Linked DNA regions of Homo sapiens. The protein of the gene in region 1 purifies or fractionates together with the protein of each later gene. This does not show direct contact. Each region holds a gene or a part of one and is shown on either strand. Other genes may lie near its edges. The genes, in order: ANKRD20A1 and PTPN5.

What was found.
Region 2: the proteins of ANKRD20A1 (region 1) and PTPN5 purify together in Homo sapiens (affinity purification with mass spectrometry; one large-scale study listed by BioGRID and IntAct). This does not show direct contact.

What each region holds. Positions count from the first base shown.
Region 1 is NC_000009.12:67,857,598-67,861,851, forward strand, and holds the start of ANKRD20A1 (ankyrin repeat domain-containing protein 20A1), read left to right. Parts: upstream 1-1,333; 5' UTR 1,334-1,829; coding exon 1,830-2,032; intron 2,033-4,254.
Region 2 is NC_000011.10:18,743,292-18,747,107, forward strand, and holds part of PTPN5 (tyrosine-protein phosphatase non-receptor type 5), read right to left. Parts: intron 3,807-3,816; exon of another isoform or gene 3,665-3,806; intron 909-3,664; coding exon 715-908; intron 139-714; coding exon 31-138; intron 1-30. UniProt on the Homo sapiens protein: May regulate the activity of several effector molecules involved in synaptic plasticity and neuronal cell survival, including MAPKs, Src family kinases and NMDA receptors.

The DNA.
Region 1 (4,254 bases):
AATAGGTAGAAATAGGTAGAGTTGGGATAGAAGCCTTTGAAGCTACCCCCGTACCTTGCCCACCTGGCACAGGCCGAGGAAGTCCTGGGACAATGCTGTGAGCGACCTGAGGGCCGTCCAGGGGAGCCCCGCCAGCCCATGCTGGCGCCCGAGCTGCCCGCCGCCATCTGAATATGTTGCAAAGACAGTGCTGGCCTGGCAACCGGTGACGCTCCACGCCCCACCCCGACCCCCACTTCTACCCAAGTAGTGGCTACGCTAGAGACAGATTCCTGGGCGGCAGCGGTTAAGTCTGGCAGTTGGCCAGGTGGCCAAAGGACGGGAACTGGCCGTTCACCCCATCCCAGTTCCACAGAGAACTCAACCACTATGGCCCCTGAGCGGACCTTCAGGCCTGGTGGGCTGTGCTCTGTGCCCGCAAACCTGACGCCATCCAGGGGAGCTCCGCCTTCCCGCGCCAGCGCCTCGGCTGCTGCAGAAAACTGCAAAACTGCAAGTTGCACACGGGCAGAGATGACGGAGCAACCCCCGACCCTCCGCGCCACTCACCCTACCTGCACACCTGCCGCGCGGACCCTGGGGCGGGTGCCTGGGTGCCCAAGTCAGGCAGTCCGCACAGCAGTGGCACCAGGGTGAAAACCTGCTGCTCGGTACCATCCCGGTTACCACGAAGAGCCAGTCCCGGCGGCCCCTGCGTTCTTGGAGGAGGCCAAGTCAGAGCAACCTCTCAAGTGGGAGGGCGATGCACTTGACCCTGAGGACATCAGGTACCAGGCCCGCCAGCTCACGCCGGCATCGGAGCCGCAGCTGCAGTCTAGACGTGGTGCACCGGCAGCAAGTGACTGGACACTCCAGACCAGGCCCGCCCCGCAGTAGCGTGGATCCTGAGGCCAGACCCCCAGGCGGCAAAATCAGGCAACCGGCCCCGCCAGCAGCCGCTGTTTCATCCGTGTGGACACAGAGTGCCCAGCGCCAGGGCCCAGGATCCAGAAAGATGTCCAAGAGGAGCGGACCTTGAGGCCAGGTGGGCTGTGCGCTCTGCGGCCCTGAGGCCATCCAAAGGAAGCTCCGCCATCCTGCGCCAGTGCCAGATCTGCAGCTGCAAACCGCGCGTGTGGCACTGGCAGCAGTGAGGGCGGGTGGGGGAAGGAGCAGCCCCTGACTCTGCCTCCATCCCTCTCCAGCTACCTGACACTAGCCACACAGACTTCAGGGCCAGAGCCTCAGCGTTCAGCCAATCCGCGAAGCCACTCAGGTGGCCGCGGAGTGCCCTTGCCAGCACCCTATCTCCCTTCTGAGGAGGAGCGGGGCGGGCTGCAAGGCCAGACAGGCCCTCTTTCTCAGGCCGGGCTGGCTGCGCGCCTGCGATCCTGGGGCCGCCCGGGCGATCCCAGGAGAACCGGCGAGCCCATCGGCGCACGCCCAGAGCTGCAGCCCCACCTGCTGGCGCGCGCCGCCAGGGAGCGTCTTCCGGGAGCCCGGCAGCAACCGCGGTGCAGGCGCGCTCCGCCAGGGACCGTCTTCTGGGAGCTCGGCAGCAACTGCCGTGCAGGCGCGCGCCCAACGGCTTTGCGAGGCTCACTCGGTCTGAGAGGTCGGAGGCTGCGAGTGTCGCTGCTGAAGGCTGTGGTGGACCGGGCTGGATCGCGGATTGTGGAGTAGACCATAGATTTGAAATAGCGGAGTTGGGGTTGGATCGGGGCTTTGGGGTTGGATAGGGGATTTGGGGCTGGGTCGGCCGGGGTCGGGGAGGGGGGTGGTGAAAAGGTGACAGGGAGCTGCCCCCGCTCAAGAGCCGGTGGTTGGGGGTCTGAGAAGAAGTCACCAATATGAAGTTATTCGGCTTCGGGAGCCGCAGGGGCCAGACGGCCCAGGGCTCCATAGACCACGTCTACACGGGTTCCGGATACCGAATCCGGGACTCCGAACTGCAGAAGATCCACAGGGCAGCTGTCAAAGGCGACGCCGCGGAGGTGGAGCGCTGCCTGGCGCGCAGGAGCGGAGACCTGGACGCCCTGGACAAGCAGCACAGGTAGCGGGGGCTCAGCCCGGGGTGGGAGGGGGCCCCCAGGCCCGGCTTCCCCGCAGACCCTGGGACGGGGCCTTGCAGGGCGCCGGGCACCCTCGGAGCGGCGGAGCCAAACGGACTCTCAGCTGTTTTCCATCCCTCATAATTCCCTGGCTGGAGCAGTTGGAGAATTTGAGTGATTTAACTCACAAAGTTAAGCATATACAGCGTTGTTATTTTTAACGTACACGTTTAAAACATGGTTTATATACATTATAGGAGGTGCCTAATGAGAGAACTCGTTCCCCTATCAAAAATAACCGTGAGTTGTTTCAGTGGGCGAAAAGTTCTCAGATAAGAGAGCTTACTTGAAAAATATTTACTATATTATATATATATATTTTTTTTTCAGATGAAAAGTATGTTTTCATTTTATAGGGAATTCATTATATTCTTTTTTTTTTTTTTTTGAGTCAGAGTCTCGCTTCTTTGCCCAGGCTGGTGTCCAATGGCACAATCTTGGCTCACTGCAACCTCTGCCTGCCGGGTTCAAGCAATTTTCCTACTTCAGCCTCCCAAGTAGCTGGGATTGCAGGCAGGTGCCAGCATGCCTGGCTAATTTTTGTATATTTAGTTTCACCACGTTGGCCAGGCTGGTCTCGAACTCCTGACCTCAAGTCATCTGCCCGCCTCCACCTCCCAAAGCGCTGGGATTACAGGTGTGAGCCACCGCGCCTGGCCTATGTTGTTTATTATATATCATAAGATATATATATATTACTGATATGTATACATATATAACACATATGTTATATATATCAGTTATATATACACATTAGATGAAAAGTACCTCTTCATTTTACAGGGAATTCTTTCAAATCAAATCATCAAACACTCTAAAAGTGGGCAAAGTACCTTTTTCCAGATCTACAAGTTACTTATATACATAGGAAAAAATCCTTCGCATTTCTGGTATAAGAATTTAAACTAAAAGAGGAATGAAACAGTTTTCTATCCACAATATTTGTGAGGATGTTTTATACTGCTGCTTAAAGTTGCTGATTACTTTTCAAAGTACTCATTTGAAAATGGTAAGTACTACATTTAAAAAATGTGTATGCCCTTTACCCACCAATTCCATTATACTAAAATACCCTTAGGAAATAAAGATACATGCACTTTATTTTTCACAGTACTTACTTTAAAGAGAACCCATAGAATGGATCCTATAAATAAATTTCAGTTGCATCCATAGGATGGAATAATATGTGACCACTGAAGGTGGCAGTAGATACAGAAGTACGTTGATGTGCAAAGATGTATTTTGTTATAGCTAGCAAGGAGAAAAAAATTAGTTAAATTATACATACACAAACATACTATGGTCTTGTTTTAGCAAAAATATGTACAAAATATAAAATTTGTAATTTCTGAGCATTTGTATTTTAAGTAAAGTTTTTTTCCTTTTTCTTATCTGTGATTGCTGCAGTGAGTACAAAACTTCTAGTAAAAGTTTATTATTAATGGACTAATCCTTGGGAAGAGAGGAATATGAATCTTGCGCTGATGAAAATAATTTCTCACTTTCTATTCTTTATCATTATTGTGTGTGTTGTTATCTTCTTTGAGCTTTTAGCCTCTTCAGAAGTAAAAAGGGAATGTTTTTATCTGTTTCAGATTTTATTATCTATATATTTTATTATGTACATATGTTTTGCTTATATACTCATTCCATTTATGCAAACATAATCATTTCATTTTAATTGTGTTCTTTAAAAATAAAACAACACATATAAATAATTACTATTGCAAAAATATTGCTTTATAGGAGTTTATTTAAAAATAATGAACTCCCCAACTGTATTTATCCATTCTTTCATTCCATTTATGGATCAAGCATAACCTGAGTACCTGCTATGTAGCAGACATATTCTGTCATCTCTCAGGACCCGTCCATCCTTAAACACTTCATGTTTACCTGCCCCACCTGCACAAGCTGAGAGATTTAAAATAGGAATATTGGGACTTAATCTCCTTGAAACTTTATCTCCCACCTTTCAAACAAAAGCATTTCTGAAGTTAGAAAATAGTAGAAGATAACCTTTAACTGCTCTTTCGAAAGTTTATCAGTCTTAAATACTAATATTAATCATTGGAAAGTCTTATTTGCATATATTTTCTAAGTATAAATATTGAATACAATGAGCCATATGTATTCATTTGAATCATGAGTTTCCTTTGGTTTC
Region 2 (3,816 bases), on another chromosome or scaffold:
CTACCCTAGGACTCCCCAAAGCTTACTTACCGTGGGTTCCAGCTGTTTCAGGAGCGTCAGCAAAGAGGAGACGAGGTTTGTGGCGTTCTGTGACCAGATGTGGCCATAACCGCTGAACCAGAGCACCCCACAGGCAAGCTGGGGCACAGGGGAGCAGGCTGAGTATGGAGCCGGCCCCCTTCCCCCGTGTTCCCCCAGCAGAGCTCACCTGCAGCCTCAACCTGGCCCTGCATGGAGGCTCCTGAACCTCTAAGGTCCAGACCGGGCAGCTGAGAGCAGGGCCCCGGTGCTGCGTGCCCGGGGAGGCCTCAGGACTCTCCTTGGAGAAAAGCTGACTGAAGGGAACCAAGAGAAAGCCCTTTCCAGAGAGGACCTCACAAATATGTACATCAAAAGAGTAGTCTCCTAGAAAGGCCTCCACAGACAGGAGTTCTCAGGAGAACCCTGTACGGCTGGGAGCTCAGGGGTCGGGGAGGCCCTGTGTTCTGGATTCTTAGGTTAGGGAGGCAGGGTGTGAGGTCTCAGATGCTGGTGCGGTAGCTCAGAATTCCAGCCTTCCCCTTATCCCAGCCTTGAGGGCTTGGAGCTCCTGAGGAACACCAGGGAGGCCCCTTATCCTCCTGCCTTCCAGGTGGCCATCCTGGGGAGGAAGTGGGAGGCTGGCCCTCCACCCACCCTCTCTCCAGACCCTTGTGAGGCCTGTGCCATCCTTACCAGGAACTGTGAGGCAGCGAACAGGCACAGGCTGCTCCTGACAGTGAGGGAGTGGCTCCCAGCGCCTCGAGGTGGTGGCTTCTGAGCTGGATCTGAGGGCGGCGAGGGAGGAGGGGGTGGCGGCATCTCTCTCTGTGAGTCCTGGAGCCCTTCAGCCTCGTCCAGTGCCTCCATCACTATCGGCTGGGGGAGACCTGTGGAAGATGGGCCATGCGGGCCGATGACTCCGGCCCTGTCCACAGGCAGGGCTCTGCCACCCCTTTTGGGGTGGCTGTGGCTGCCTCTCAATCTGGGATCAGTCAGCGTGGCTCCACTTCCAGCAGTCACCCTCGATTAGCAAAGCAATATTCACCTACCTTCGTCAGAAAGAGCTAAGTGTGGGTGGACAAATTATTTCTCTTTTATTTCTCCAGTAACAGAGTTAAAATGGCAGGAGGTTTTCCAGGGAGTTAATATAGTTGTATTTACGCAGCTTCATTCTTTTCCATTTCTTAAGGAAACAAAAAACAACCACCTCAAACTCAATTAAAAAAGAAGCAGCAGCAGGAAAAAAAAAAAGACATGGCATAACCAGGCCATGACCCTGAGCAACCCACCCATGCCTGCCCTGTGGATTTTTGTCTCATGTGGGCCATGCCCTAACTGGGGCTGGAGGCTAGACTCTTGACAAGACCACATCCATGTGCCCCCACCCCATCTCAAGACTCCCTGCACGATGAGAGGGGCTGGGGGCAGTTAGGGCGAAGTGCCGGAAAATCTTGGTGTAGCAGAATTGATACCAGATGTCTGGGGCCAGTTCTGGGTCTGTCCCTAGTGACTCCGGAGAGTCACTCCCTCTCTGGATCTTAAGTTTCCCCACCTGGAAGATGGGGTTTGGGTTCAACCCTAGTTTTTCTAACTGTGCTTTACAGAGCCCTAGTGTTTTCTCAGGTGCACAGGGGCTGAGGCCCTATGTCTGCCCCTCAAGGGCAGAAGCTCTGCCTGTCCCTGTACCATATACTGGATTTCTGCTAAGATTATTTCAAGGCAGAGTTCTGCTACTAAAGAGTCTGAATACCATTGGCTTAGATCTGAGCCCCTGGCTATAGCATGGGGATTCTAGCTGCGGCCACCTCAGTGAGTCCCAGATATTGGAGGTCTGCACCCAAACTCACAGGATTTAGTTTACTGTCAAGAAAAGAGGGACCAAAACATGGATGTATACAGTGTGACAGCTGGGAAGGGGCTGTCTACATATCATGCTGTATATGGGACAATGGACTTGGGTGACAACAGAACCATGTGGGCCCAGCATAGCCGTTTGTCCATGAGCTGCTCGCTCACTTGACAAACATTTACTGAGCACCTCCCATGGCCTGGATCAAGACTGTGGTGCAGAGAACCCGGTCCTGGAGCTGTGTTTGTAGCACAGGCTCCTGCTTCCCAGCCGGGCCCATTTCAGCTTCACTCCTTGCAGTTCCTCAGGTAAGCCCGCCCCCTATGCTTTGACATGCTGTTCTCTCTGCCTGGAACATCCCTCCAACACTCTGTTCCCCTCCCCTGCCTCCCACACACTTTGCCAAGGTAACACCTATTCATCTTGTAGACCTCAATCAGATGTCCCCTGAAGTAGGTCCTGCTCTATCACATACGAGCACCCCATGCCTCTCTTTCATATCATCATCATCATCAGCAGCAGCAGCAATATGCCTGGAATGTGCAGGGGCCCTTCTCTGTGTGCCTGGGTTAATTTTTTAATTCTTCACAGCACCCCTATGGAGTTGCTACTACTATTATCCCCATTTTACAGAAAAGGAAGATGAGGTGCAGAGAGGTTAACAGAGCTGCCCAAGGTTGCTTAGCTGGTAAGGGTAGAGGTGGCTTCAATCCAGGGCAGTCAGATAGGCTTCAGGCTACATTACACTTGCCATGGGTTGTAAAATAATTTTTGAATATCGTCTCCTCTACCCACCAAGAAGTTCCATGAAGGCAGAGTGGTATCAGCTTTGTTCATCCTCATGTCTACAGCATGTAGCGTAAGTCCTGGTGTGTAAGGCTACAATAAATGTTTACTAAATGAGTGAATGATGATGGGCAAAGGACACTCTTTTACTCAGTTTTTTTTGCCTGATAAATGGAGATAATAATACATACTTTGAAAAGCTGTTATAAATATAAATATATATATATATATATATATATATATATACATTTTTTTTTTTTTTGAGATGGAGTCTTGTTCTGTCACCCAGGCTGGAGTGCAGTGGTGCAATCTTGGCTCACTGCAACCTCCGCCTCCTGGGTTCAAACAATTTTCCTGCCTCAGCCTCCGGAGTAGCTGGTATCGCAGGTGTGTGCCACCATGCCTGGCTAATTTTTGTATTTTTAGTAGAGACAGGGTTTCACCATGTTGGCCAGGCTGGTCTTGAACACCTGACCTCAAGTGATCCACCCACCTTGGCCTCCCAAAGTGCTGGGATTACAGGTGTGAGCCACTGCGCCCGGCAGCTGTTATAAATATTTTAGATACTACAGACGAAACACCTAGCATAGTGTTCAGCATTTAGTAAGTACCCAATAAATGGCAGATTATAATGCTAACACATAATTAATTCTTGTCTTCAAAAGGCTCCAGTCTCGTGGCTAAAACAGACCAGTAAAGACATGTTTACAATACAGTGCATTAAGCAATAAATCTAAGTGCCAATGGAGTCTAAGAGGGTCACGAGAGGGTATCTACCTTTGTCCATGGAGGTTATAGTTCCTGACCACCTGAGCAGTCAGTTCAGATCCTGGGAGCAAGGTGAAAAAGGAAAAGCTACTGCTAAAAGAAGGATCACGTGGGAAGGCAAGAGTTGCTACTATTGATAAGCAGGGGGTTGATTTCTCAAGGGGCAAGGTCTCTGCCCACACACAGTTGACAGGTGATGCCAAATATGGAACGGTGGGAAGGGACAGACCCAGGGGTTACCTGGCTTCTGTGCCTTGGTTCTGCAGAGCACATACTTGGACCTTGGGCAATCCCTTCTTCTCCCTGGGTCTCAGTTTCCTTATCTGTAAAAAGAAGGGCTTGAACTAGAATTCAGCGCTTCTTAGATGTTTCTGCAAACCTCAGAGGAGAGG